Homo sapiens: one gene and its partners. The protein of the gene in region 3 interacts with the protein of the main gene of each other region in a pairwise test. Each region holds a gene or a part of one and is shown on either strand. Other genes may lie near its edges. The genes, in order: LZTS1, CALR, NEK6 and PLEKHA7.

Region 1 (8,379 bases), on a different chromosome or scaffold from region 3:
GTGGTTCCCTGCTGTCTACCAAATAGCATGCACTCTCCCCAGCTGAGTATGCAAGGTGGGTGTGCAAGCGCCTCCTCAATCTGACTCCAACGTGCCTTTCTAGAAAGGTTTCTTTCCCCACCACCTGCTCTTCCCTATCATGGCCACCCCTCCACTTCGTCTGCCTGGAAATCACACCCAGCCCTTGGGGCTCTTCTCCAGCTCTGTATCTTCCATGAAGACTCGGTGCTGATTCTGTTTTGTAGAATGATGTTTTTCTGGATGTTTTGTCTCACCCCCAATACCAGACAAGTGACTCGTTGTGGCAGGGTCTGTGGTTGCTCATCTTGCACCTGAGCGTAGCACAGGGCTGGACATGAACCTAGCCTTCTGTGACTTTCAAAGGATGGAGCTGAAATAGAAAGAGATGGAGCACAGTAGCTCACGCCTATAATCCCAGCACTTTGGGAGGTTGGACTGGGGAGATTTCTTGAAGCCAGGAGTTCAAAACCAGCCTGGGTAATGTAGCAAAACCTCATCTCTACAAAAAAATTTAAAAATGGGCCAGGTATGGTGATACCCACCTGTGGTCCCAGCTACCAGGGAGGCTGATGTGGGAGTCCAGGAGTTCGAGGCTGCAGTAAGCAGGGATTGCACCACTGCACTCCAGCCTGGACAACAGAGCATGACTCTGCCTCAAAAAAACAAATAACAATAATAAATAAATAAAATAAAAAGAAAAAAGAAAATGGAAAGAACTGGGTTCCTGAGGTGTGAAATAAAAGTTCTTGGCAGTGAGTATTTGTGTGTGTGTAGGGGAGACAGGGAGAGGATATGGATAGAGTGGTTTTTAAGCATCCTTTCAACCCTGAGGTGTTGTGTTTGCATGTAGAGTATCTGAAGTTTTTTCAGCACAGGCTCTTTTGTGTCCTGACAAATCTTAGGACCCTAGAGTTGGAGGTCCTGTCTGCGGCTCTAGAATAGAAGTAAGTCCAACATCAAGAAAAAGTTTCTAAGTCAACAGATGTCCGAGGTACTGGTGGAAGCCCAGAGAAGCCAAATGCCTGGTGCTTCTAGTTTGATAGATGAAGAAATCCTGTCTTGGGAATAGCCACGCATCCTGCCCACACCTGCCCCACCAGCCACCAGCCGGCTGCACAGCCTTTGAGCAGGGCCAGCTGCGGGCCTGGCAAGGGGAGGAGCCGAAGGCAGCTGGGGAGTCCTTCCCAGGCCTCCTTCAGGGGCCGGCTCGCTTTACAGTGCAGGTGGAGGCTGGGGGCTCCGCCTGGCTCCTCTCATTTTCCCCACCTGCCTGCAGTGTGGTTTGTCTGCTGGGGCCACGGAGGCGTTGGGGCTGGGGGAATTTGATAGGCAAGGAGGGGGAGGCTGTCTCCTCAAGATGTGTGCGCTGTCCAGTCCATGCTTCCCTCCCTCCTCCCCTTGCACTGTGGAAATGCCCTTTGGGGGTGGCGGGGAGCAGGGAAGAGCTCAAGCTGGAGTGTCTGAAGGTTGCAATAAATAAGGGAAGCTACCCTGAGTGTGTAGATTGTCCTTCTGGACCTCTGCTGGGGATGACCATGGGAGACAGAGGGGAGGGCAGACCCCACACAGGTACCTACAGACACCAGGCATGGGGCTGCCTCTCTGGAAGGTCAAGGGCAGCCTCAGGGCTCATCCCCATATCCCTCAAGAGTCTCCCCATCTCCCTAGCTAGGGAGGCTTCTGTTCTTGGCATTTTCCTATTATCTCCCCCAAGCAGAGTGTGGGAGGCAAGGAGCCTGGGTTGGGGGCCCCAAGAGGTCCCAAGCCAGCTTGGGATGGCATGAGTTCCCTTTCTAACCTCTCCCTGGGTGCCCAAACAAATGTTATCAGTGACTCAGGGAGCCTCCTGTCAAGGTCAGTCTGCCCTGCCTGACGCTGTCACTGCTGCCCGATGTGAGAACCGATTCTGCTTCCTACCTCCTGCCAGCCCCGGCACCATGCCTGGGCATTGGGCAATGGATGAGCTATCAGGAGAGCCCATGTGCCAGGTGGAGATCACCCCCAGCCTTCTGCACAAGGACCACAGGTCTCTTAAGTTTCTGCTTTCCTGGCTGGTCTGTTCTGCAGTGTAACCCTTTCCCTCCCTGGAGTTTCCCACTGAGATTGCAGACCAAGCCCTGTAGATTCCCTTGTGATTCCATCTCCTCTTGCTTGCCTGGCTTTCCAATTTCTGTGGCCCTTGAGTGGCACAGAGAGATCTGAAGTGGCTGGGTAGAAAGAAGCACTGTGGGCCTTAGCGCCATCCATCTCTGCCATTTGGGACCGAGCCCTAGACCATTCCTAAGGCCTGGTGCTATATATCAGATGCGGGACACACATTCTCTTTCAAGGGGCTTATAACCTATGCTGGGAGGGAGGATAGAGATAAAAAGCTAAATATGAATACATGGGAACAAGTGCTCAAATGGGAGTGACAAGTACGTTATACACTGTAGAATTCAAGGAACAGGGAGTTCACAGAGGGCAGAACCCTTCTCTTCCCATGGCTAATGTCCTTTCCTGCCTCCAGACCAGGGGTGGGAAGACACTCAGTAGCAGGTGGACCCCTCTGTCTCCTCCCACTGAGCCAGGACCCACTCACCTATAATGCCCCCCCAATCCAGTGTCACTGGGGTCACCAGGGAAAGGTGCTGGCAAACCCCAGGCCTTGTTTCCCTGCCTCCTTCACGCTGTCTTCCCTCCTTCCCTCTCTCCCCTCTCCTTGCATGTCTATACTCAATTCTCCCTCTTTACAGCAGGAATATAATGTTCGGCTGCCTTACACCCACTCTCTGAATGCTGCCAGCGAATAATGACTAAGGTGGTGGGTGGAAGTACAGCAAGTTGAGACCAATTTAGCAGTCCATGGTGCCAAGAGGAGGGTGATTTAGCAGCAAATGGCTCTGCAGCAGCAAGAAGAGTGAAAATGTCCCCCAAGCCAACAGGCCAGGGAGCCAAGTGCACAGCCCTGCCCTGATGCCTTGGGCGGGGATGGCCTCAGCCACCTGAGAGGTTATTCTGTGAGGTCAGATTCATGCACAGGAATGGGAGGGTTTGAGAACAATGCCCACTCCCAACCCCATCTCACCTCCACTTTCAACCTCCTTGAGGGGCCCCAGTTCTTGTACCCCTCTTAGGCTGAAAGTCTCACCTAGACTGGCCCATCCTCTTCCTCCAGAGGATCTGTAACTCTAATGGGTTCGTGGCCACCTAAAGACTGCCCCAGGCATGGCATCGGGGAGGGGGCTGTCTGAGCTCACCTCAGACCATGCCACAGATTGGCCAGCCCAGGTAGGCAGAGGTGTGGATCTCCCGGGTCCTGACATCTTGGGAGTCTCTGAAGATTTGTGTAATGTGATGTACTTGGGCTTGTGAGTTTGGGTATCACAAGAAAGCACGTCTCAGAGGGAGAGACAATGAGAGTGGATGAATGAAATGGATACGTGTGTGTGCGTGTGTATGTGTGTATGTGTGCGTGTGTGCATGTGTGTGCATGTGCTCTGGCACTGGCCTGAAGGCAGCCCTATCTTCTCCCACAATGATTAACTGACATGAAGCACATCTATTGGCGATCTCCATGGGGCAGCTCTTTGCTGTCTTTGTTCCAGGTGCTGGACGCAACCCACATCACATCTGTTCAGACACCGATTTGGCCTGTCACTTAGTAAGAAAAATCACCTCTCTGCTGGATTGATTAGATCAATTAGCTTTAGCTGTTAGCTAACACACACATTCCCTCTCTGCTTGTCTTCTGTCTCCGTCTTCCGCCTCCCTTCGCTCCCCTCCTTCCCACGATGCTCCATCCAATTCTCTTCTCCCCTGGGGGCAGCCTCCATGTGTGATTGCCCCTGAAGTCTGGTTTCCACAAATTGCTTGAGCTACCAGTGAAGAGACTGCTATCCCATTTTAGTTCAGAACGTACTTGCTCATGGACAAGGTGGAAACACTGAAATATATTATGCAATTAAGGTTGGTATTCCAATGAAATGTCATTAATTCAAATTCTGTGGAGGCAACATTTGCTCTAATTTCAACATGGAGTGGACTAAACCTTTTGAATTGACAAGCTATAAAGAAAGAACTGACATATGATAAATTTCATTCTCTAAAGCAAATGCCAAGTAGACATTCCATTATCCTAGCTACATCCTACTTTATTGTGTTTGTTTGTTTGTTTGTTTGTTTTTGAGACAGAGTCTCGCTTTTTAGCCTAGGTTGCAGTGCAGTGGTGCGATCTCAGCTCACTATAACCTCCGCCTCCCGGGTTCAAGCAATTCTCCCGCCTCAGCCTCCTGAGTAGCTGGGACTACAGGCGTGCACCACCATGCCCAGCTAATTTTTTGTATTTTTAATAGAGATGGGATTTCGCCATGTTGACCAGGCTTGTCTGGAACTCCTGACCTCTGGTGATCGGCTCACCTTGGCCTCCTAAATTGCTGGGATTACAGGCATGAGCCATCACGCCAGGCCCTAGTTTATTGTTTATTGAGCTTAACATATATGCATCACAAGCACTTAGGGAAAAGGGAGATGGGGGGTGAAGTGAGCACAGAAAAACTGAGGAAGATTCGAATGCCCTCATCATGCTTGAATTACAATAAATACAAAAGTAACTGCATTCTTATAATTTTAAAAATCTCTTTTTCCTGCATATTAAACACTTGCCAACAATTCGATGAGCCTAAATCCATTTAATTGGTGAACCCCAATGACTTGGTAGTTACAGCCCAACATTGGGACTCAGAACAGCTGGTGTTCATATCTCAGCATTCCTCTTAAAAATCTTGCATAAACTCTTTCACCTTTCTTTTTTTTTGTTTTTTATTTATTTTTTGAGACAAAGTCTTGCTCTGTCACCCAGCCTGGAGTGCAGCAGTGTGATCTCCACTCACTGCAACCTCCACCTCCCGGGTTCAAGAGATTCTCCTGTCTCAGCCTCCCAAGTAGCTGGAACTACAGGCGTGCACCACCACACCTGGCTCATTTTTGTAGTTTTAGTAGAGACAGGGCTTCATCATGGTGGCCAGGCTGGTCTTGAACTCCTGACCTCAGATGATAAGCCCACCTCAGTCTCCCAAAGTGCTAGGAATACAGGCATGAGCCACCGTGCCCAGCCCTCCTTCAACTTTCAAAGGCGCACTTGGTTTCCTCATCTGCCAAATGGCAAAGGGAATCTTCTCACAGAGTTGTTGTGAGGTGTAAATAATAATAATAATAATTTTATTCCACTTTTTAAAGTGTAAAGTCCTGTACAAGTAAAAAGCGCTATTGAAATCACCATTAAGGAAGTCTAGGGATGGTGGAAGTCAGTGTCCAGCAGGAAGCAACAGTGTGAGGCTGGATGCGGTGGCTCACACCTAGAATCCCAACACTCTGGGAAGCCAAAGTGGGAGGATCACTTGAGGCCAGGGGTTCAAGACCAGCCTGAGCAACATAGCGAGACCTTATTTCTACAAAAATTAAAAACAATTAGCCAGGTGTGTTGGTATGCACTTGTGGTCCCAGCTACTTGGGAGTCTGAGGAGAGAGGACTGGGGATCACTTGAGCTTAGGAGGTCAAGATTGCAGTAAGCTGAGCCGTGATCACATCACTGCACTCCATCCTGAGAGAAACAGCAAGATCTTGTCTCTAAAAAACAAACAAAAAACCAGTGTGAGAGACACAGGATGAAAACTGCAGCAAAACAGAGGGCTTTGCCAAATGGCAAAAGGAGCTAACTAGCCGTAAGCTCACCAGCTATGCTCGACTGTAGCTGACACATCCCCATCAACTTCTCCAACCCTGGGAGGAGGGATCTGGAGGCTAATTTGCACGCTGGCTGGAGGCAGTGGTGAGAGGTGAGAGGTTGAAAACCTCCCATTTTTTATGCACCACCTCTGTTTGGTCTGGGTGGCTGGCCAAACCCAGCATAAGGAGGCAACAGGCTCTGGCTAAGGTTCTTGGAAGAGAGAGCCCTGTCTCCTCAGCTCTCAGCTTGCATCTTGGAGCCATGAACTTGGCTCCTGCTTCGCTGACTCCCTTCATACCCTCCTCAGGTTCAACTTCAAGGTTCAGTTCACAGCCACCTCCTCCCTGGTAAGGAAGGTTCTGGCTCACCTGCCTCCTGCTGAGAAACTGCTGTATTCAAAGTTAGTATTTTAATTGCAAAAACCACAATTACTTTTGCAGCAACCTAATACAATCCAGTTTTCAACTTACTTGTCATTGGTTCAGGTGTGCCAGTTCTTCTTCCCAACTGTCATCACAAATTTTAGTCTCTAAGCATTATTTCGTCTTTTTTGCTGTTATTCCCCACTCCCTGGCACCTCACACGGATAAGACCTTTAATAAATAGTGAAATGCAGAGTTTTTCAAACTTGATCAATGATCTTTAAAAGAAAAACTTAAATCGCCATGGAGCCCCGAGAACACAGGTAGTAATTCCTATATGAGAAATAACAGGGCGATGGAAAGGAGATGGAAGGAGAATCACTTGACTGCGTCGCCTCGGAGAAATCATGGCCAGATTACCTCCCCAAACATGGTAGCAATTCACACTCTCAACTGCAAGCCTAGGAGTGTCCATTTCAGGCTTCAAACTGTAGCAGCACAAAGATCTATTCAACAGCAAACTCAAAGAGCTAATATGTAAATCACCTCAAGATTCCCCACGTAGTTGGATACTTCTTTGTTGGCAAAATCCCAGAAACATCTCATCATTGCCCTGGAACCATGTGGCGGCTCAAAGTGCAGGATTTTAAAACCCCAGGTCTAGGTCACACCTAGAATGGTCCCCTTCCATAACTGTGCTTGTGGGTTGATTGACCTGGAGATAGAGTGGGTGGGGGCGAGTGTTCCCTCGGACTCCCGAACTGTTGGTGGGGCCTGAGATGGCCCCATCTAGGGAGAGGCCTTGAAGGAGCTGGCCCAGTAACAGAGGAAGGAAAGTCAGTGGCCACACTAGCAAAGGGCACCCATGCAGAAATCCACTGTTGGGAACAGTGCTCCCTGCCAAAGGTCTCTGAGAGCTCTCATCTTTCCCCTTACCTTATTAAACAAGCATTTACTAAGGGCATACTCATAGTATCTACTGAAAGCCAACACTGTATTTTTTTTTTCTTTTTTGAGACGGAGTCTCTCTCTGTTGCCCAGACTGGAGTGCAGTGATGTGATCTCGGCTCACTGCAAGCTCCCCCTCCCGGGTTCACGCCATTCTCCTGCCTCAGCCTCCCAAGTAGCTGGGACTACAGGTGCCCGCCACGACGCCCGGCTAATTTTTTGTATTTTTAGTAGAGACGGTGTTTCACCGTGTTAGCCAGGATGGTCTCGATCTCCTGACCTCGTGATCCACCTGCCTCAGCCTCCCAAAGTGCTGAGATTACAAGCGTGAGCCACAGCGCCCCGCCGCCAACACTGTATTTTGAGCTGGGAACTCATGATGCAATCTCTGCTTCTAGGAGTTTTGTAGACTCCTCAGGAGCCAGTGAGTAAATGCCATAATATACTGGTATGATGGTAGGGACTCTGAGGAAGGTACCTGACTCAGAATTGAGGAAAAAACAGAGGAAACTTTCTTGGAGGAGTTGATCCCTATGGTTAAAACCCACAGTGGGGCTGGGTGTGGTGGCTCCTGCCTGTAATCCCAACACTTTGGGAGGCTGAGGCCAGCAGATCACTTGAGGTCAGGAGTTCAAGACCAGCCTGACCAGCATGACAAAACCCCATCTCTACTAAAAATATAAAAGATTAGCCAGGCGTGGTGGCAGGCGCCTATAGTCCCAGCTACTTGTGAGGGTGAGGCAGGAGAACTGCTTGAACCCAGGAGGTGGAGGTTGCGGTGAGCCAAGATCGCACCACTGCACTCCAGCCTGGGCGACAGAGCAAGACTCCGTCTCAAAAAAAAAAAAAAAAAAAAAAAAAGTGGGAGCCAGTTAAGTGGAGAAGGTAGAGAGACCAGGCAGGAATATTCCATGCAGAAGAAACAGTGTTTCTATGTTCAAAGGTAGCAGAATAACATGGACAGAGCCAGGGTCCAGAACCTTACTAAGCTGATCTCAAATCCCTGCCCCTCGGTTTTGTAGCCTGGCTAAATTACTTAACTCTCCTCATCTAATAATTATACATACCCCGCAGGGCTGCAGTGAAAATTAAATGAGATAATGAATAAAAAGTTCCAGGCACACAGTGGATTTAGTGGCTGGCATTAAGTGTTACGGTATTATCCATTACACTGGTCTATAAGGTGCTTACCCATAGGTCTGTCATCATTACATTATTCATCTTCCTAGCCTCGCTGCACAGCTCAGAGCCTTGCATTTGGTAGGCGCCCAATGAATATTTATGAAATGAACGTTGAATAAGCGCAAAGGCATATAAATAAGTTTTCAGGATTAGAAAGC
Region 2 (4,760 bases), on a different chromosome or scaffold from region 3:
TGGAGTGCAGTGGTGTGATCTCTGCTCACTGCAAGCTCCGCACGACCCCCCAGGTTCACTCCATTCTTCTGCCTCAGGGTCCCGAGTAACTGGGACTACAGGCACCCCCCACCATGCCTGGCTAATTTTTTTGTATTTTTTTTTTTAGTACAGACATGGTTTCACCGTGTTAGCCAGGATGGTCTCCATCTCCTGACCTCATGAACCACCCACCTTGGCCTCCCAAAGTGCTGGGATTACAGGCGTGAGCCACCTCACCCAGCCTTTTTGTAGAGACAGGGCTTCATGTTGCCCAGGTTGGTCTCGAACTCCTGGCCTCAGGTCATCTGCCCGCCTCGGCCTCCCAAAGTGCTGGGATTACAAGGGTTAGCCACCATGCCTAGCCTCTACAAAAACTTTAAAAATTGGCGAGATGTCATGCATACCTGTAGTCCCAACTACCAAGGAAGAAGGATGATCACTTGAGCCTGGGGCATCGAGGCTGCAGTGAGCCATGATTATGTCACTGCACTCCAGCCTCGGTGACAGAGTGAGACCCTCTCAAAAAAAGTTGGGACTTGGCCGGACACAGTGGCTCACACCTGTAATCCCAGCACTTTGGGAGGCCAAGGCGGGTGGATCACAAGGTCAGGAGATGGAGACCATCCTGGCTAACATGGTGAATGAAACCCCATCTCTAGTAAAAATACAAAAAATTTGCCAGGTGTGGTGGTGGGCGCCTGTAGTCCCAGCTACTCGGGAGGCTGAGGCAAAAGGATGACGTGAACCCGGGAGGCGGAGCTTGCAGTGAGCTGAGATCATGCCATTGCACTCCAGCCTGGGTGATAGCGAGACTCTGTCCCAAAAAAAAAAAAAAATGCTGGGACTGAATTTTTGTCTGTTTTGGTCACTGAAATACCTTCTGTGCCCAAGACAGTTCTGGCATGTAGTAGGTACCTGAAAAATACCTGAATAAGAGAGTGAGAAACAAGAAACAGGTGCAGAGAACTGAAGTCAGTGGCCCAAGGTCATGGGGGTAGGAAACCACAAAGCTGGGGTTTGAACCTGGGCAGTACAGCACCTGAGTCTCTCCATCTTTTTTTTTTTTTTTTTTTAAGACAGAGTCTTGCTCTGTCACCCAGGTTGGAGTGCAGTGGCTTGATCTCGGCTCACTGCAGCCTCTGCCTTCCAGGTTCAAGTGATTCTCATGCCTCATCCTCTCGAGCAGCTGGAATTACAGGCATGCGCCACGACGCTGGGCTTTTTTTTTTTTGAGATGGAATTTCACTCTTGTTGCCCAGGCTGGAGTGCAATGATGCAATCTCGGCGGCTCACCACAACCTCTGCATCCCAGATTCAAGCGATTCTCCTGCCTCGGCCTCCTGAGTAGCTGGGATTACAGGGATGCGCCATCACAGACCCCGGGCTAATTTTTTTTAGTAGAGACAGAGTTTCACTATGTTGCCCAGGTTGGTCTCGAACTCCTGGCCTCAAGTGATCCGTTCGCCATGACCTCCCAAAGTGCTGGGATTACAGGCATGAGCCCGTCCCGTCCCTGGCTGTCTCTCCATCTTTCCATCTTTTTTTTTTTTTTTTTTTTTTTTGGAGATGGAGTCTCACTCTGTCACCCAGGCTGGAGTGCAGTGGCACGATCTTGGCTCACTGCAAGCTCCGCCTCCTGGGTTCACATCATTCTCCTGTCTCAGCCTCCCAAATAGCTGGGACTACAGGCACTTGCCACCACGCCTGGCTGATTTTTTGTATTTTTAGTAGAGACGGGGTTTCACCGTGTTAGCCAGGGTGGTCTCGATCTCCTGACCTCGTGATCCGCCCACCTTGGCCTCTGGGCGAGGATTACAGGCGTGATCCACCTCACCTGGCCTCTCCATCTTTTTAACTGCAGTGTCAGCGGTGTTCCTTGTCTTCTCTGCAGATGCAGGCAGCAGAATATAGTGGTTATAGGAACACAGGTGGAAACCCTGTCCAAAGCAAGGGCTATCGGGTATCACCTCTGACCATCCTTCCCATTCATCCTCCAGGTCAAGTCTGGCACCATCTTTGACAACTTCCTCATCACCAACGATGAGGCATACGCTGAGGAGTTTGGCAACGAGACGTGGGGCGTAACAAAGGTGAGGCCTGGTCCTGGTCCTGATGTCGGGGGCGGGCAGGGCTGGCAGGGGGCAAGGCCCTGAGGTGTGTGCTCTGCCTGCAGGCAGCAGAGAAACAAATGAAGGACAAACAGGACGAGGAGCAGAGGCTTAAGGAGGAGGAAGAAGACAAGAAACGCAAAGAGGAGGAGGAGGCAGAGGACAAGGAGGATGATGAGGACAAAGATGAGGATGAGGAGGATGAGGAGGACAAGGAGGAAGATGAGGAGGAAGATGTCCCCGGCCAGGCCAAGGACGAGCTGTAGAGAGGCCTGCCTCCAGGGCTGGACTGAGGCCTGAGCGCTCCTGCCGCAGAGCTGGCCGCGCCAAATAATGTCTCTGTGAGACTCGAGAACTTTCATTTTTTTCCAGGCTGGTTCGGATTTGGGGTGGATTTTGGTTTTGTTCCCCTCCTCCACTCTCCCCCACCCCCTCCCCGCCCTTTTTTTTTTTTTTTTTTAAACTGGTATTTTATCTTTGATTCTCCTTCAGCCCTCACCCCTGGTTCTCATCTTTCTTGATCAACATCTTTTCTTGCCTCTGTCCCCTTCTCTCATCTCTTAGCTCCCCTCCAACCTGGGGGGCAGTGGTGTGGAGAAGCCACAGGCCTGAGATTTCATCTGCTCTCCTTCCTGGAGCCCAGAGGAGGGCAGCAGAAGGGGGTGGTGTCTCCAACCCCCCAGCACTGAGGAAGAACGGGGCTCTTCTCATTTCACCCCTCCCTTTCTCCCCTGCCCCCAGGACTGGGCCACTTCTGGGTGGGGCAGTGGGTCCCAGATTGGCTCACACTGAGAATGTAAGAACTACAAACAAAATTTCTATTAAATTAAATTTTGTGTCTCCCTCCTGTGTCTCCTTCTGGGGAAAGACAGACTTAAGGAAACCCAGCAGTGGTCTTTTTGGGGGGGGGGGGGGTTTCCAGTATATCTCCTTTTTCAGCTATTGCTAGAGAGGTTGCTGAGTGTTCCACAAGATTCCAGGGACCCTTATTTACCCCATAACCCTCAAAACCAACGGGGGAATGGCTGTTGCTGCTGTAAATACTCCACATACTAACTTACTGAATCCTTGAACCTAACTGGTAAGTTTTGGTTCTGCTTATTTATTTATTTTTAAGATAGACTCTCGCTCTGTTGTCCAGGCTGGCGTACAGTGGCTCAATCTGGTTCACCCTGCCCCTTAAACTGGCCTTTTTCATGCTTCTATTCCTTTGGGGTCCTGTGGCTCAGCCCAACCCCTCTGGGATGCCTCCAGGACTGGTAGATCCAAGGGAGAATTCTGTATTTAATGTAGTGAGGCTTTGAAAGTTAACATCTTTAAATACTTCTGGGGTCAGATTAGGTATAGTACAACAAAGTACTCCTGCCCGGAGACCCAAGAATGAAAATTGTAGGTTCATTCCAAAACTCCAGATCCCTAAAGAATGAATGAGGCTACAAAATGGCACCTTGCCCCCGCTTCCAACTTAAGGTTTTTTTTCTGTGCTTGGTGGCCTTTCAGGTATTTCTAGTTTTGAGTAACTTTCACTTTGACTGCTCTACAAGGGTTCCTGCCAGGATACCCAGACCAGAATAAAACTCATTTGGGGGCCGGGTACGGTGGTTCACGCCTGTAATCCCAGCACTTTGGGAGGCCGAGGCGGGTGGATCACCTGAGGTCAGGAGTTTTGAGACCAGCCTGGCCAACACGGTGAAACCCAATACAAAAAATTATCCGGGCGTGGTGGGGGGTGCCTGTAATCCCAGTTACTCGGGAGGCTGAGGCAGGAGAATTGCATGAACCCGGAAGGCGGAAGCTGCAGTGAGCCGAGATCGCGCCACTGCACTCCAGCCTGGGTGACAGAGACTGTTTGAAAGAAAAAATTCTCATTTGGAAGAGGCAAAATGAGGTTTTTACAGAAGAAATACAAATGTCTGTAACCAGTACAGGTACATAAAAACTTTGTTAAAAATTCATTTGAGCGTGAGAGTGGGGACACCAGAGTCACTTTGCAGCCCCGTGACGTCACCGATAACGGGCATGGCGTCACTCAGGAGACCACGTGTGCGGGCCGAGCAAGAAGCCCCGCCCACAGCGCGGAGTTTAGTCTGCGCGTGCCTCGCTCGAGAACGCGCTCGTGCGCATGCCCACAAAGGCCAAGGAGGGAGTGCGCAGGTCACGTGCGCCGGTGGTCAGCGCGCGCATTGCCTGCCCCGGAAGTGGTCGGCGCGCGGCGCGGCGCGCCTGGGCGCTAAGATGGCGGCGGCGTGAGTTGCATGTTGTGTGAGGATCCCGGGGCCGCCGCGTCGCTCGGGCCCCGCCATGGCCGTCACCATCACGCTCAAAACGCTGCAGCAGCAGACCTTCAAGATCCGCATGGAGCCTGACGAGACGGTGCGGGCCGGGCCGGAGCCCGGGGGCGGGAGCGACGGGTTTCGGGGGTGGGGTGGGGGCGGGGAGGCTAGAATCCCAACGGGAGGGGCAGGGAGGACGGCGCGGGTCGGCCCTGCCCAGACCCCCGACCTGCCCGACTTTCCTGGACCCCCCGATGGTCTTTGGCCCAGCCCCCAGCCGATCGGGCGGCGCTCCTGCGCCGGTCTCCGGGCGAGGCCCCACCCCCGGGGCGCTGGCCAGGCCCCGGCTCCAATGTCA
Region 3 (8,379 bases):
ATTATGCAGCCACAACAAAGAATAAAAGTCATGTCCTTTGCAGCAACACGGATGCAGCAGGAGGCCATTATCCTAAGAGAAATAACACAGAAACATATCTATACTGCATGTTCTCACTTTTATAAGTGGGAGCTAAATCCTGGGTACACACAAACATAAAGATGGAAACAGTAGACACACTGGGCTCTACAAGAGGGGGCGGGAGTGGGGCAAGGGCTGAAAAACTTCCCATTGGGTATGATGTTCACTATCTGCGTGACGGGATCAGAAGCCCAAATCTCAGCATCACACAATATACTCTTGTAACAAACCTGCATGTGTACCCTCTGAATCTAAAATAAAAATGGAAATTTAAAAAAGAAGGTGGGCCAGACGTGGTGGCTCATGTCTGTAATGCCAGCACTTTGGGAGGCCGAGGCGGGTGGATCACCTGAGGTCAGGCGTTCAAGACCAGCCTGGCCAACATGGTGAAACCCCGTCTCTACAAAAACACAAAAATTAGCCGGGTGTGGTGGTGCACACCTGTTATTCCAGCTACTCGGAGGTTGTAGTGAGCCGAGATCGCACCACGGCACTCCAGCCTGGGTGACAGAGCGAGACCCTGTTATCAAAAAAGGAAAGAAAGAAAAGAAAATCCTCTTGCCCAGATTTTGTGTTGAAAAGGACGTCCTGCGCGAACACTGGCCATCACATCGCTGCCCTCAGCACACATCATGCTCCATAGACATGTTTTTCAGTTACCAAAAAAAGTGTCAAAGCAAGTGAATGGCAAGTTGAAAGTGCCTTCAAATCTCTGAGACATGACCTACGGCGTGGGCAAGCTGCTATGAGGATAAATGGGAACACCCTGCTCCTTCACCCTCCTCTTGAACTTCACCTCATTATGTCACCAGGAAATCTCACAACCTCTCAGGGAGGACTCCCCAAAAACTGCCCAGGTCATCAGCAGTCCAGGCATGACACAGTTTCTCCAACAAGGGAGAAATGAGAGGGGTTGGGTAGGAAGTAAAGCCCCATCAAGGAGGCGCTGGTTCCTGGGGAGGGGAGGAGGGAGACTCCTCCCCCATTTCCCTGCACGTCTGAGGGCAGGGGGTTAAGGAAGGGCTCCCTTAAATGCCCAGGCAGTCTACACAGGCACAGGCAGAAAGGGGCTCCAGACGTCCATTGGGCTAAATCGCCAAGGTCCAGAGAGGGGAAGGGATCAGCCACGGGTCCACAGCAAGCAGGGGCCGAGCTGAGTCTAGAACCTGGTCCACATGGAGTCCACTTCACAGCCTGTGGCCTCTTGGTGGGCCCAGGTGGGTCTGGAAGGGGACACACTTGGGTCAGGGACAGGGAAGGTGCTGCAAAGACGCAATGTGGTTGGGCTTTGTCTGGCTGTGGTGGTGGCCAGAGGGAAGGGAGGGAGAGCTGAGAGTAAGGGTCCCTGTCCTTTGAATCTCTGCCATCAGGGGCTCTGCTCCCAAGCTCCAGGCCCTCCCGGATGTAACACAGAGTGTCTATGATCTGTCTTCTCCACTGGGCTGCACCCTGGTGTCCAGCATTCAGTGGTGATCAGAAATTGCACAGAATGAATGAACACACGCCTGCGTTCCAACAGGACCCACCTTCTTGTCCCACGCTTGGCAGCTGCCGACCCCACCAGCCCCCGCACTTGAGAGGTTTTGGGTTTGGGTTCTTTGCATGAATGATGTGATATGTCAACAGTCACCCCTCCGAAAACCACGTTTCCTTTTGTTTTGTAGGAAGCACCTCGTGCCCTGGCACATCCTGTTGACTTCCCATGGGCTACCTGTGGAGTGGGACCCGTGTTCGGGAAGGCGGCTGGCATTGGCGGGCAGAGGTGGCAACCATGACAACTGGGCTGCCTTGGGCGGCGAGCGTACCACACACCAGCGCTGCCCTGAGCTCGTCAGACATGCTTCCTCACTGACTCCTCCAGCGTCCCTGTTGTCATCATGCCCCCTTTACAGATGAGGAAACTGAGGTCCTGAGAGGCCCATGGCTGGCCTGCAGCCACACAGCTAGTGAGCGAGGGGTGTGTCCTCTGAAACCCCGGCTTGGTGCCCTTGGCTGCATGGCAGCCCTGGAGAAGGGACCAAATCCCCTCTGCAGCCATGTGGGTTTACGCCAGGCTCAGGCTCCTGCAAGGCAGGGGCTGCGGTGGCACATCTGTGTGACCAGGGACCAGACCAGGCTGTGCTCAGCATGCTCACCTGTGGGTTCCTTCACTCGGGGAGAAGGGCACATGAGGTGGGGAGGGGGCAATGGGTGATCAGGACAAACATTCCTCAGGGCTGGGTAAGTGGCAGCAAGCTGACCATTACTTAAACATTTAAACAATGTTTTCGAGGGATATTTTTTGACCTATAATAGTTAGTGGTAAGGACACCTCCTGCCTCCAGCCTTGACTCCCTCACCCACTGTGGCCGGGGGCCACCAGAGCAGGCACTCACAACTCACACCCAGCCATGGCCCCCCGACTTGCAGCCACTTCAGGGGCTCCCCTTTTGTTCTGAGTGTGTATCTGGCTCTGCTGCCATGTCCAGCCTTCTGTCTCCCCAACCTCCCATAATCCACGGTGCTGCGGTGCCTGGAAGAAGGCTCACTTCGGCCTTCCAGATTCTGGGATGGTGCCCTGCCCTCTGTGAGGCCTGCCCAGGAAGCGGGTTTCCCTGGGGCTCCTGGCCCACCAGTCAATCTGCATCACCCTGGAAGGTCACCATCTGCTTCCTACCTGCTTCCCCACCAGCCTGGAAGTCCCCAAGAGCAGGGCCAAGGCCTGAGAACACAGGGCAGCGTGTGGCAGAAAAAACTGCTAATCTGAAATTCTGCAGCTGTGGCTTCGGCGGGCAGCCCTGCCACCAGCAGTCCCACTTTGCTGGAAACTGCCGAGCAAATCCAGTATGTTTCATGGGGGGCCGGGTGCGGTGGCTCCCGCCTGTAATCCCAGCACTTTGGGAGGCTGAGGTGGATGGATCACCTGAGGTCAGGAGGTTGAGACCAGGCTGGTCAACATGGTGAAACGCTGTCTCTACTAAAAATATGAAAATTAGCTGGGTGTGGTGGTGGGTGCCTGTAATCCCAGGAGACTGAGACAGGAGAACTGCTTGAACCGAGAAGGTGGGGATTGCAGTGAGCAGAGATTGTGCCACTGCACTCCAGCCTGGGCAACAAGAGCAAAACTCTGTCTCAAAAAAAAACAAAAGAAATAAAAAATAAAAATCAGGTGTGGTGGCATGCGCCTGTGGTCCCAGCTACTCGGGAGACTGAGGCGGGAGGATTGCTTGAGCCCAGGAGTTTGAGGCTGCAGTGAGCTATGATCATGCCACTGCACTACAGTCCAGGCAACAGAGTTTGCCTCTAAAATAAAAAAAAAACCCACCACCACCACCACCACCACCACTACCAACAAAACCAAAGAAAAAGGCTGAGAGGAGAGATGGAAAGAGGATGAGAAAGAGAAAAACAGGGAGACAGACATAGAGACAGAGGCAGAGCCAGACAGGCTGCAGTCTGGATGTGGTCCCCACAATGAACTCCTCCCCTAGCCAAGCCTGGTCCATAGGCCACTGCGAGGCAGGGTCAGGGCTGCCCTGTGGGGAAGGACTTCTATGCCGGGTACTGCCATGTACAAGCAGGAGGGGCGTGCAGCAAGGAGGAAAGGCTGTAGGCAGCGACCCCAAGGGCTGGGCAGAGCGATGAGGCGGGCCGCTCCTGCCTGGCCAGGAGAAAACTCACTAGCCGCTGCCCCTAGAAAGCTATCGTCTGTTAACTTAGCAGGGGCTGCGGATTCCTGGCACCCAAGGGCTGTGATGGACATGATGTGGCCCAGCCGCGGCCCCAGAACCTCCCCGAGGAGGCAAAGCTCCCGCTCGGCCCAGGGTGCTCACCTTCAAGAGGCCGATCTCCTTGACACAGTCCTGCCTCGCCTTGGCGTCCATCATCTCAAAGATCTTGGGCGGGAGGAAAAAGAGAAATAGAGTGGTTACAATCTGTGTCCAGTGACCCAAAGGAGGCCACGGGGTCTGCTTTCCAGTCCCGGCTCTCCCACCTCCTCACCAAGGGACTCTGTGACCCCCCCCTGCACTCCCAGCCCCTGTAGGGCTTGCTCACTGTGGGTCCCCCCAGCACTGTCCCACCACAAAACCCATCGTGGCACTAAAGAACCAAGACAGAGAGCCCAGGTGAGCCCCTCCCCAGAAGATGGAGAGGGCGGGCCAGGCACAGTGGCTCACACCTGTAATCCCAGCGAGGCTGAGGTGGGTGGATCACTTGAGGTCAGGAGTTCGAGACCAGCCTGGCCAACATGGTGAAACCCCGTCTCTACTAAAAATATAAAAATTAGCTGGGTGTGGTGGTGCACGCCTGTAGTCCCAGCTACTCAAGAGACCTAGGCAGGAGAATCGCTTGAACCCGGGAGGCAGAGGTTGCAGTGAGCTGATCACGCCACTGCACTACAGCCTGGGTGATAGACTGAGACTCTATCTCAAAAAAAAAACAAGATCAAGAGAGAAACTGGTCCTTTTTTGGACAGAGAGGACCCTGCTACTCCTCCAGCGCCCTGAAGCTGCGGGTGTTCTCTCCCCATTTCCCCAACGCCATTCTCTCTCCCGGCCCTCCTCTGCCCAGGCTCTCAATCTTGTTCTTTAAGGACAAGTAAGCAAATCAAGGGGCTTGGGAAGCTTTGCTGGAGGATTTAAAGCCATTTCCTCCGGCAAAGCTGTGTTCAGACGGGCCCAGCGGCTCTCATGGACATGGCTCCTGTCCTGACTTTGCCGCTTGACCTACTTCCTCCATTTAGGAGGGACGCAGAAGGCAGGAAGCCCAGAACTGTGGAGCAACCGCAGGCGCAAGGATGGGTGGACATGGTATGAACCTCAGCTCCCCCAAGACTCATGCTGGGGCCCTGGCGGTTATGAGATTTTCCTCATCTGAGAGATGAAATGACAATCCCCACCCACGGGACTGTTGAGAGGCTCCATGTGCTCCTTGCATGACCCAGTACACAGCAGGCGCTCAATGCATGCTCGTTTTTCTTTTCCTTTGCAGTTCACAGTGAACTTTCATCAATAGGAGTCCACCTGGTTCTCTCTGTAACCCAGTGAGTTGAGTGCTGTTTCCCTCGTTCACAGAAGAGGGGAGAGAAGGGACTGGCCCGGGCACCCCGTCCAGATGCAGAGACCACCTCCCGAGATGCAGGTTTGACCCCACGGGTTGTCAGCTCACCTGCACCTTCTTCAGAGCCACTGTCTTCCTGTCCAGCAGGCAGGTGGCCTTGTACACCTCGCTGAACTGTCCTCGGCCTATCTTCTTTTCGATCTGGAAGTCCGCCAGCGAGCAGCGAAAAGACAGCGTGTTGGGATGCCTCTGGAACGGGGGACAGAGGGCCTCCGTGAGCAGCCAGGCTGCAGCAGAGGCCTGGGGACGACCCCTAGAGGCCCAGCACCCCAACAGCACCCTCTAAGGTGAAGGAGGGACTCTGCTGCCAACCCTGCTCTGGGAGCCTCCCAGGCACCCCCCCAGGGGGCTTTCTGCACAGGGTCCCCTGGGTCCCCTCAAGGACCCCCAGTGCAGGTGAAAAACTGAGGCTGTTCATGCTCCCCACTGCCCTCATCACCACCTTCATTGTCTGACTGCTTGTTTGTTTGCTGTCTCTGAGTCCCATCCCTGGGGGCTAGCTCCGTGGGACCACGGGCGTTGCCCGTCTCATCCTCTCCTGAATCCTTGATGCCCAAACTGGGGTCCGGTAAGCCGGGTGCAGCTCATGTATCCCCAGCCCGTGGCCACCATGCAAAATGCCCCAGGTCATCATAAGAAATGGCAAGTTCCCTTCCTGGGGCAGCCGTTCCCCATCTCAGACAAGAAAACCAAGGTTAATATTCATAGCCTTGGCCAGGTGTGGTGGCTCACGCCTGTAATCCCAGCATTTTGGGAGCTGAGGCGGGAGTTCGAGAGGTCAGGAGTTCGAGACCAGCCTGGCCAACATGGCGAAACCCTGTCTCCACTAAAAATATAAAAATTAGCTGGGTGTGGTGGCCCATGCCTATAATTCCAGCTACTCAGGAGGCTGAGGCATGAGAATCGCTTGAACCCAGGAGGCAGAGGTTGCAGTGAGCAGAGATCATGCCACTGCACTCCAGCCTGGGTGATGGAGACTCTGTCCCCCTCTCAAAAAAATGTGCAGCCTTACACCCTGAGCCCATCCTTTAGATAAACTGCCTTTTTTAGGGTGTCGTGAAGAAACCAGAGCTCCACAAAGACTCTGCAGGGGCCAGCATTGGAACACATGATCCTGCGCTAGGACCTGCCCAGGGATGGAGCCTCCAGGTGAGACCACAGTGGCCAGGAGGACCCCAGGACACCTGTGCAGTGAGCTCTCAGGAAAAGGCAGGAGGGGGCGCCAACAGTGGGCCAGGGAAGGAGGAGACAGACAAGGGGAGAGGATGCCACATCTCTGGCCTGCCCTATGGTGAGATGGGCCCGGCTGTGTCTCCATTTGCCTGATGAGGAAACTGAGGCCCAGAGGGGCCAGCCATGCCCACATCACCCAGCTCCATGCCACCGCCCCTAGTGAAGCCAGAACAAGCAGTTCAACTTTCTAGCATGAAGTGGGTCTTTGGTGAGGGTCACACTGAGCCGGGCACCGTACCGAGGCGTCTTTAGGAGCCAGCACCCTGGCGGAAGGCATCAAGACCAAACCGAGAACTACAGGACTGGCCCTTCTGACAGCTGCTTCCCCACCTGGAAACACCAGGAACTGCTGGCCGGACCAGCTGCGTCTCAGCCTGAGATGCCTGCGGAGCAGGGGCACGTCTCCTGGGCAGGTCTAAGCTGGGTCCATCAACTTCTCCTCTGTCCTTCTCCCAGAGTGCCTGAGGGGAACCTGGTTATGTGGTGATCCCTACTCTGGGACCCTGAATCATGACTTAATGAATAATAGAAACTCACTGGAAAAGCAGGGAAAAAAGTAAAGTGAAAATGTCTCTTCTAGGCCAGGCGCAGTGGCTCACGCCTGTAATCCCAGCACTGTGGGAGGCCGAGGCGGGCGATCACTTAAGGTCAGGAGTTTGAGACCAGCCTGGCCAAAAAATTTTTGTAAAAACACAAAAATTAGCCGGGTGTGGTGGTGGGTGCCTGTAAATCCCAGCCATTTGGGAGGCCGAGGCAGGAGAATTGCTTGAACCTGGGAGGCGGAGGTTGCAGTTGGCCTAGATCGTGCTACTGCACTCCAGCCTGGGTGACGGTGAGACTCCATCTCAAAAAAAAGAAAATGTCTCTTCCAGATTTGGCTGAGGGAACTCTACAGAACACCCTCCTGCGGGAGTGAGTGATGGGAGTCCAGGCCTCACAGCACACAGCAAGGTGAGGGCTGGGCCAACCTTGACTTTGAAGCCTCGAGGCCTAATTACCTCTCATGGTGGGTCCTGCCAGAGGACCCGATCTGGAGGGCTGCTGGAGGAGGAAGATGATGATTTTATCCACCATGTGCCAATGTCTGTCGGGTAAATACACCTGTACACAGAGCACCCACCTAAGAAGAGCAGGCATCCTGAGTGTCTACTGCATGCTGGGCTCTGTGCAGACACCGCCCACGCGCCCACTCTTTGGGTCCTCAGAACAACCCTGTGAGTGGGCCTCACTGCTGTCCCCATTTCAGGAATCTGAGGCTTGGAGGGGTAGCAGTGACCTGTTCTGATCAGGCAGCAAAGAACAGCAGAGCTGGGGTGTGACCCCAGGACTGGGGACTGTGGTGCCCAAGCTCTTGCTCCGTATCGGGTGGGCTCTCAGCTCAGATCCCTCCTCGGCTTTTCACTCAAGACCCCCTGACCGGCCAGGCCTGCCACTTCCTGCTCCAGCCTCCATTCTTTCAGTCACCTGAGCCCTGCCCCAGGCCCCGCCCCAGGACCCGCCACCGGCCTCTTCAAAAGGGGGCCCCTGTCTAGTCCCCTCCACGTCCTCTGCACTGAGGCTCTGACCCCAGAGCAACTGCTTGGAGCATGTTTGTGGAATGACACATGGAATGTGCCTGACACGACCTGGCGCACAGTGGGACTCTGTGACTCAGACGCCGTCACCTCTAGGAATGCAGCCAAAATCACATACCCTCATAAACAGCCAGGGCGGCTTTCTGAGCACTTAGAAGAATCGCACGTACTCATAAAAATAACCATGAGGTGTTGTACGTTAGACGCCTACTATGTGCTAGTTTCCAGCTGCTTAGACAGCTCTATGTCTCCAAACTCCTAATAGCTTCATGAAGCAAGGGTTATGAATCCCATCTCGCAAATCAGGAAACAGGCTAGAACTCCCTGTCAGATCTAGAGCCAGCTGCACTGCTGGTGATGGGGGTGGGCTCCCTCCCCTCTTGGGCCTCAG
Region 4 (8,379 bases), on a different chromosome or scaffold from region 3:
TAACATTCGTAGGTGGGGGATCTCGCACTTACAGTAGGGCTGGGGAGGTACAAGCAAAAGCAGCTTGGAGCCAATGAGGCAGAAAAACTGCTGTATGAGACCCATCTATTTGAGATAGATGTTTTCTTTAAATTAGAAAAAAAAACTAAATCATATAAAATTGAAATGCTAAATCAAATGGAATGTTTCTAAGGCTGTTTCACAGTATCAACTTTGTAACAAGCTTCCCAAGAGGGAAAATCTAACCGATAAGATCCAACCATGACTGTCCAGCTCCGTGGTGACTTCCTGTTGACCCAGGACCTGCATCCTCACAGGCCTTTGACCGCTGAGCAGGTTGTTGAGAACAGAGCAGGCTCAAAGCCTCTCTTCCCCTGAGCAAAACCAAAGCAGATGCTTATCTATCCCAGGCCATCTTCTCTCTCCCATCCATCCACCTCAAAGCCCCAAATGGTCCTGATTGTCTTTGATGCCTCAAGTCCCTCCAGAACCCCAAACCCAGAGCCATATTCGCACATTTCACCCATTCATGCACAAGCTCTCAATGACTCCAAATCAATGTAATCACTCTTAGGTGATGGTTTCCAACTATTGTTGGAAAGGATTAGGCAACTGAAGTTCCAAAGATGAAAAAATCAATTTAATGATTCACAAAGAAAACACTCATTTCCTTACACGCTCACAAATGCTCCAAATAGAGACAAGTCCTCATTTAAACCCAGCCTGATTGTTTCCACAAACAGGAAAAGTTCACTAGACTCTATAAGGTATCCTGGGGAAGAACCACGCCAATCCATTATTATTAAGCAACATGTTTATTGGCGTTGATGCAGAGACTTACACAAGTCTTCTTTTTTAAGAGAAAAATTACAAGGTATTCAAGTTACGATTTTTAGATAATCTCTACATTTGAGACATCAAATTATAAAAGGTCAGTGTTACCCCATATGACATTTGTTTTAAAAGTTTAAAGGTTACCAGGTTTGCAGCTTTTAAAGATATGAATGTCCTGGGCCTTACCCCTTTGGTGTCTGAGCTAGCAGCTGCAGAGAGGCCCTCTGAATACACAGTATATTTTGCTATCCCTTCAAGTTATTAAATACCAGAAACACAAAAGGTTTTCCATAAGAAATTGTGTGATTGGACTACAGGAATTAAAACCGAACAACCTCAGTCTTGGGAGAATGTATTCAAACGTGCAATCTCTGAAGTCCCTGTCTACTGTCCAGGTGTAAAGCATGGATTTTTATAAATTAATAATGCCCAGACCTCTGCCAATGACTGTGGCGTCAGGCAGCAGGTTGGCTCAGGCTTGTGGGGTGGCTTTTGGGACAAGTGAATTATGAGTCAGTAGGCCTGCATGAAGAGGGCAGCAGAAAGGTGAGTCACATCTGGGAACACTCAACAGGCTATGGAGACAAGAACCGCTATTACAAGCCCGGTAATAAGTAGCACAGGCCAGTTAGAGCATGTTCAATGCAAATCAGAAGCTTCTGTAAACACAATCAGGCAGGATTAGAGAGGCAATGAGCGGTAACACTAAAAGCAAAGGAGCTTGTGCAATGAATTAGGGAAAGAACAATCAGGCTAGAGGTTTAGGGAAACATGGGATTTCAAACAACAGGGAAAAGTCAAATGGAATGTTTCCAAAGGGACCTAAGGTGACTGTGGACAGGGCGCAGCGCCAGGAAGCGCCACCAGGGGGCAGCACAGGCCTCCCCAGCAATCCCAGACACCCTGAGGCCTCTGCACTGCAAGCCCAGGGAGACCAGTGGCCCTTGGGGCAGGGGTGTGACCCCGTGCTCCATCACCCTCACACAGCATCTGCTGGCAGGTCTGGGAGGCTGATCAGTTTGCTTGTGCTTCTAACCAAATCATGTCACCATCTTCCTCCTCTCCTCTCTGAACCCTGTATTCCCAGGTCCTGAATTCAGCCGAGATTCCGAACGCCTGCAAAGGCCCCTCTCCATCGCGGCTGGGAGGACTGACTGGGTATTTCCTCAGGCTCCTGGGCCTGTTTGATCCTCACTCCAGCTCTGGTTCAGGTCACCCTCTGACCAGGCATTCGTCCAGCCTGGGTCGTGGACAAACAGCCCCGTGGGGTGTTCTCTGAACCATGTAGGTCAATGGACAGCTCTCTCACTGGGAGGTGTGATGTGCTTGTGTTTGGGGGACTCTGAGGGGCACTCGGCTCCCTGTCCCTGCCCCGCTGCCTGGCCCCTCCTAACATACTGAGCCAAGATCTCCAGGGAGCGGCCGGCTGAGGTAGCGAGATGAGGGCAGGCCCGTCCTCTCCCCTTGGCCCAGTGTCCTCTTGCGCTCTCGGACCAGGGCCTTCTGGTGTCGCTTCATGCGCTCCAGCTGCTCCTCTGCACTCATCTTGCCTCGCTGGTGATCCCCTGAGTACAGGCGCTCCAAGGCACTCTTAGGTCTCTGAGGAAGAGGAGGCAGGCAAGAGAGACACAGAACAGCTGGGCTGGGCACGCAGAGGACAGCCACCCTGCTGGCTGCATTCCCGTTGTCTCTCTCTCACACACATGCACACTCTAGTTGGGCTCCTCTTGGCCTTAGAGAACTATTTCCTCTAAGCAACACGATGCCCCCAACCCTCAGGAGCTTTCTGAGTAGCACCCATTCTGCAGATGCAGACACTTAGGCTCAGGCCTGTCCAGTGAGGCCAGAACCCAGGGTGCAGGCTTCTTGAGCTCCCTCCTGCCACCCTGACAGGCCAGAGAGAAAGGCAGGATGCCCTCCTTGGTGGACAGTGGGTGACAGGGAGCTCAGGAGGGGCTGAGGCCACCCCAGAGGCCATCCCCAGGGCTGAAGGGATGGCCAGTTACTGTCCCCCTGGGAGACCCTCCCTCCCCATGTGAAGGAGCAGGGAGGTCCTCGACAGCTCAAGGCCACTCACAGGGAAGGTCGCCTTGCTGCTTTCGGCATTGAGACCCCTCCGGAGTGTGACGTAGGGAGCAATGGTGGACGACTGCTGGAGCCTTGACGTGGACCCTGAGAGCCCTTAGTGAGGAAAGAGAAGTGCAAGCATGTTTGTGCTGGGGTGGATGGGTCCCTGCTTCTCCCTCATCACACATTCTTGCAGGAGTACCAAGAGCACCCAGTCAATGACCCACCCTTATTTCTCTTCTTCCTCCCCAGGGCATGGAGGAGCAAGGTCCCCAATAGAGGATGGGGGCCAGCCCAGGGGTGACCTTTGTCCCTGATGGGGGGCAGTGTCCCTGCAGATCTGTGGACCACCCCAGGCTTCCCTTACATGCAGATGACTGGGCTGCCTGGCAGGTAGAAAGGCTGGCGGGGCAGGAATGCCTTTCACCCCCTGATCCATTCTTAGGCACCCTGCACAACCCAACTTGGGGTGAGGAGGACAGTGAGAAGGACACTCAACTGGCAAGAAAGCATTTAAGGAAAGGGCTCACTGAGTCTTAGAGTGGCACTCTGGAAGGTCTGAGATGGCCAAGGTGGTGGCAGCCACCCAGCACTCCGGCCTACAGGGTGCAGTGACTCTGGAGCCAGAGCACTGGGATTGTCTTCCGGTTCCACCAATGACCAGCTAATTGGCAAGTTATTTAATTTCTCTGGGCCTTAGTTTCTGTGTCTCTAAAATGGGGATGACAGTACTTTCCTCATAGGATTGTTGTGAATATCATGTCTATATAAAGTGCTTAAACAGTGCCAGGCTTTCTAGTAACTGCTATTATCATTGTTCCTGGGGACAGATGTAACAAAAGAGGAAGAGAATCAGGATGTGGGCCAGAGGAAGACAGGCCAGGTCCTCCCTCTTGGCATCCCAGACCCCCCTGACAGCTGCTGCTCACTCCTAGGCCTAGAGCTGCAGGCAGAAGGGTACGAGGCACCAGCTGAAGGCTGGAAGCAGTGTGGTGGGATTCCCAGAGAAACTCCAGGGAGGGCCCTGCCTTACCTCTGCCTGGCAGCGTCTGGTACCTGCTCTCAGGGCCCACAAGTCCTAGGGAGGGCTGGGCCATGTCCCCGCTGAGGGTCGCCAGCTCAGGCTCACTGACATACGACCGCAGCTCCACCTGTGGGCAGAGTCCCAGGTGATGTGACCTGCCAGTGTCACACCCCTTTACCTCTCCCCACATGTAGAGTGGCAGCCCCAGGGTCCCCCGCTCACCCTGGAATCCCCATTCACACACTGCCCCAGCTCCCGGTCTCGCTTCCTCTCGTCTGACTGCCGCTTGAGGCCCCGCACAGATGTGTGCCGGATGATGGTGGCCTCTCTTGGCAGAGGCGGCACAGCCGGGGGCTGGTCCTCTGGGCTGTAGAGTTCGGGGAGTGGGGGCCTGGGAGGTGCTTCATCTTCCTGCTGAGAAAGAGAACCAGACCAGTGGTCAGCGAGACGGAGCTGGAGGGAGGACTGCTAGGTACTGCCACAGTGGAGGTTTAAAGGGTAGGAACAGGCCACATCAGAGCCACAGAACATGACTGCCTCAGCCAAGGAGCACTCACACTTCCCCTGGCGGAGCAGTGAAGAAGGGACATGCTCTGCTCCTCTATCCCCTCAGAGGTATACAGTTTCTATTCCTCCAAGTGTTACCTGTATAACTGTGTCCTGAAACCCAGGACTCAGGTCTCCTGGGTCCATGCCCTCGGTGCTGTGCTGAACTGCTCCCTCCGCTCATCTGGAGTGCACATCGCAGGCAGGCTGCTAACCCTGCCCTGACTTCCATGCTTATCACAGCACCACCTACCTGGAGAGTAACATCTACCCACTCAGCAGTGCTCAGCCTGAGCCGGCTCATTGGCCCTACACGAGCTCTGGCGCCTTCAGCAAGGTGGGGACCTGAACAAGGACAGAGTCTACATCCTCCTGGCCTTTCTATCAGAAATGTGCATGGTTACAAAATATTTCCTCCTTCCTGACTCAGACAGAACAGGCGGTCAGGATGAGTGACTCACTGCCTACCATGCAGTTCATTCCCTAGAATGTGATGAATGCAACATTTTCCTTGAAACTCCCTGTCCACAGTGTTCTGTGAGGGCTGTGGTTCCTCTACATATCAACAGACCGGCCCCTGGTTGCCATGAACACCCACTCGCAGGACTAACGACCATCATGCCTTCCACCTCCTAAATTCCCTCTTTCTCGGTCTAATTTGGTTTTGTTTTTAAGAATTTTGCAGAGTTCAGGAAAGGGCACTCCAAGCTCTTGGAAAGTTCAGGAAAGAGCACTCCAAAGCAAAGGTTTATCAACAATCTTCACTGATGTGTGAAAGTTAAGCCATCTGCCTAAGATACGCACTGGTTCTCTGAGGATCCACAGTTTCCAATCCTGACAAGATATCCGAATCACCAATTTCTAAAAAGCTCCCCAGAAAGATAAACATAAAACATTGATTGCCTTTGATTGAATGGAATGTCTGGAGGCAGAGGGTGGGAAGGAGACATGTTATTATGTACTTTTTTATATCTTTTGCTTTTGTATCTTTTGAGAATATTATCTAATTTATTTTTAAAAAGACATTAAACTCAAGAAAATAAGTCAAATAAAAATAAAAGAACTATAGCCACATGCAACAATGTATATAAATCTCACAAACATAATGTTGAAGAAAAGATGCAAGACACAAAATAGTATATAGAATTATATACCAGCATAATCACAGTGTTTAGGAGTCAACACAGGTACTAAAATTAAAAAAAAAAAAAAAGGCAAGGGGATTATTATCCAAAAAGTCAAGATTGTGGTTACTTCTGGCAGACAGGAAGCAGCTTGGCCTGGGAAAGAACCCACAGGCTTCTGGTTGCTGGCAGTGTTCTATTTCTTAGTCTAGCTGTTGGTATAAAACAGGTGGTCTCTTTATTGTTATTTGTTAAATTATATAATCCTGTTTTATGTCATTTTCAGGATGGATATTATTGTTTCACAAATATAAATGGGTTTTATTTTGTTTTGAGACAGGGTCTTGCTGTATTGCCCAGGCTGGAGTGCAGTTGTGTAATCACAGGTCACTGCAGCCTCAAACTCCTGGGCTCAAATGATCCTCCTGCCTTAGCCTTCCCAGTAGCTGGGACGACAGGCAAGCAGCACCACGCCCATCTTATAAGTGTTAAAAACAAGTAAGTAATAAAACAAATGGTAAAACTGGCAAACACACATATATTCCTAGGAGAGAGGACCTCTCCTGGTGATCCTGATGCTCACCCAAGCTGAGAAAGCCCTGCCTGAGAGCCACAGATGACCAAGCTGAGGAGGAGCCTCTGTGACCATCTACAAAAGGGAAAATGAGGAGGCTCAGGGAAGGGACGGACTTGCCTGAGGACACAGTGAGAGAATCAGTCCCGGAATCTGGGTGTCCCAGCTCCTATGCCAGTGCCTTTTTCCCCTACGCCCTGTCCCAGCTGGCAGCATTCTGCCCTATGTTGGCAGCCATCTGCCCCAGACATTCCTGCTGTTTGTTTTGGAATTTTCCCTCTCCTGTTTTAGGGCTAGAGCTCCAGTCCACCTCTTGGATCTGGGATTGGGAAGGAGATCTCAAGATGCTGAAATCCACAGTGACTCTCTGGCTGGGTGCTGGGCCATATCCTGGGTCCAGCTCTGGGCCCTGGACTATGGCTGGAAGCAGGTAGATGGTGAAGACCAGGGCAGCAGAACTCATGTGTTTTACCCAGCACTGTGCACTGACCTCATCAGAGGTCCAGGCACACACAATGCCCAGGTAAGTCTCCTCCAAGCCTTTGTTGGCAAAAATCTGGAGGGCCCCATTCCGAGGTCCACTCTTCTATGGCTTCCCTGCACTGGGACCAGCCTCATTGTGTTCTCCAGCCAAGGCTGGCCTGGCCCTGGAGGCGTGAGCTCTCTTGGGACCTGACCACATCTCCTATTTCTTTAAAGTCTCCTGCATTCCCAGACTCTGCCAAGAGCTTGGCCCCTTTCTATGCCAGGCAAACCAAGGTGCTGGCCCAGTCAGCCACAGAGGCCACAGACCGGATCTGGGACTGAAAGCCCAATTAGATGGCAGATGGCACAGAATAAAAGAGAAGGGCCAGGAGATGTGATTGGATTCACTAGTTAGCATGGAGACATTGAGCAAATGTCAACAATTTAGGCTCTTAGTTTTCTTCTCTGTGGAATGGGGATACTGCTCTTGCTGTGTATACTCTGCGAGGTTATTTTAAAGATCAAAGCATCCTCACAACCCAGCCCAGTGCTCAGCGGCGGGTGAAGGGAAGGACACTTTTCCACTGGACTGAACTCACTGCCCACAGGCTGTGTAACTGCAGGAGAGCCCCCTGCGGATTTGCACAAAGGTTTGCATGGGGACAGCTTCGTCCACAGCCACACACCTCTCTGCAGATCACAAACTCCACCCTACTCAGCACGCTCACTTCTTCTTGGTGGGCCTCAGTTTTCCCAACTGCAAAATGGGAGAGTTGGGTTAGATCATCTTCCAGGGCTCTTCCAGTTCTGACAGTCTAAGGCACAATAGCAGGGAAATACTACTTTTTAACTGCTTGTGACTAAGGACTCCTTTAGGACGCTGGCTGGGTCCATTTCCCCAAGTTTTCCCAGGAGTTTCTCTCCCAGGAGAAGGTAATCTGAGGACAGAGAGGAAACAATGGCATTCAGCTCCTAGTTATCACTACTTACAACTTTGGGCTTCGCCTTAGTTGGTGACTGAAGGGGGGATGTCACTTTCCTCAGCTGGGGTGGGTGAGGTCGGTACGGCACGTAGGTTTGCAGCTGGGGGAAGAGTCGAACCTCCAGAGGGGTCCGCACAGGGCTGGTGGGAGGACTGGGCTGTGGGGGCGGCTTGCTCTCAGAAGTTGAGAGTGAAGGCACAGGCGGGTGAGGAAACAAAGGCACCGTTTTTCTCTCTAAGGGGCATAGAAGGAAACAAAGCACGGGATGGAACAAAGACCCCCTTCCTTGGAGGATGAGTGGAGTAATTTAGCACCTCGAAGACTCAACCTCCCCAAGGGCCATCCCACCCACCTGGTTCCCAGCCTTCCACCCTCCCACCACCCTGCCCCCAATCAGATCCCCCACATCCAGGAAGATGAACATCTCACCCGGATTTTTTACTGACTCCACTAGAATTCTGAAGTTCTCTTTATTTGCACTCAGGCCTGCAGTGACATCTTCAATTCTCCATAGATCTTTCTGTATCTGCGATTTCTCCTGAGGAAGACGAAGTGGTGGGTTTGCCTTCTTAGCTCCTTACAAGTTTCTTCTTAGGACTTATCCTACCATTTCAGACAGAGCCCCCCGCCCTGAGGGGCAGCATCCCCTCTGGAAACCCCACTAGTGCTAGAACCAAGCCTGCTTCATAGCTTTCTAGGTAAGCATAGACAAGGAAAATGCCCACGATCCAGGGAGAAATTTCAGAGTAGCTTTCAGCAGTC

The links.
Region 1: the proteins of NEK6 (region 3) and LZTS1 interact in binary tests that used the Homo sapiens proteins (3 or more experiments, as listed by UniProt).
Region 2: the proteins of NEK6 (region 3) and CALR interact in binary tests that used the Homo sapiens proteins (3 or more experiments, as listed by UniProt).
Region 4: the proteins of NEK6 (region 3) and PLEKHA7 interact in binary tests that used the Homo sapiens proteins (3 or more experiments, as listed by UniProt).

What each region holds. Positions count from the first base shown.
Region 1 is NC_000008.11:20,293,246-20,301,624, forward strand, and holds part of LZTS1 (leucine zipper putative tumor suppressor 1), read right to left. Parts: intron 1-8,379. UniProt on the Homo sapiens protein: Involved in the regulation of cell growth. May stabilize the active CDC2-cyclin B1 complex and thereby contribute to the regulation of the cell cycle and the prevention of uncontrolled cell proliferation. May act as a tumor suppressor.
Region 2 is NC_000019.10:12,941,519-12,946,278, forward strand, and holds the end of CALR (calreticulin precursor), read left to right. Parts: intron 1-2,018; coding exon 2,019-2,111; intron 2,112-2,194; coding exon 2,195-2,395; 3' UTR 2,396-2,971; downstream 2,972-4,760. Other genes in the region: RAD23A (UV excision repair protein RAD23 homolog A), read left to right, coding at 4,431-4,502. UniProt on the Homo sapiens protein: Calcium-binding chaperone that promotes folding, oligomeric assembly and quality control in the endoplasmic reticulum (ER) via the calreticulin/calnexin cycle.
Region 3 is NC_000009.12:124,309,500-124,317,878, reverse strand, and holds part of NEK6 (serine/threonine-protein kinase Nek6), read right to left. Parts: intron 5,371-8,379; coding exon 5,230-5,370; intron 3,957-5,229; coding exon 3,894-3,956; intron 1-3,893. UniProt on the Homo sapiens protein: Protein kinase which plays an important role in mitotic cell cycle progression. Required for chromosome segregation at metaphase-anaphase transition, robust mitotic spindle formation and cytokinesis.
Region 4 is NC_000011.10:16,786,864-16,795,242, forward strand, and holds part of PLEKHA7 (pleckstrin homology domain-containing family A member 7), read right to left. Parts: intron 8,156-8,379; coding exon 8,047-8,155; intron 7,852-8,046; coding exon 7,625-7,851; intron 4,340-7,624; coding exon of another isoform or gene 4,337-4,339; coding exon 4,148-4,336; intron 4,053-4,147; coding exon 3,935-4,052; intron 3,016-3,934; coding exon 2,912-3,015; intron 2,434-2,911; coding exon 2,233-2,433; coding exon of another isoform or gene 2,224-2,232; exon of another isoform or gene 619-2,223; intron 375-618; coding exon of another isoform or gene 312-374; exon of another isoform or gene 1-311. UniProt on the Homo sapiens protein: Required for zonula adherens biogenesis and maintenance. Acts via its interaction with CAMSAP3, which anchors microtubules at their minus-ends to zonula adherens, leading to the recruitment of KIFC3 kinesin to the junctional site.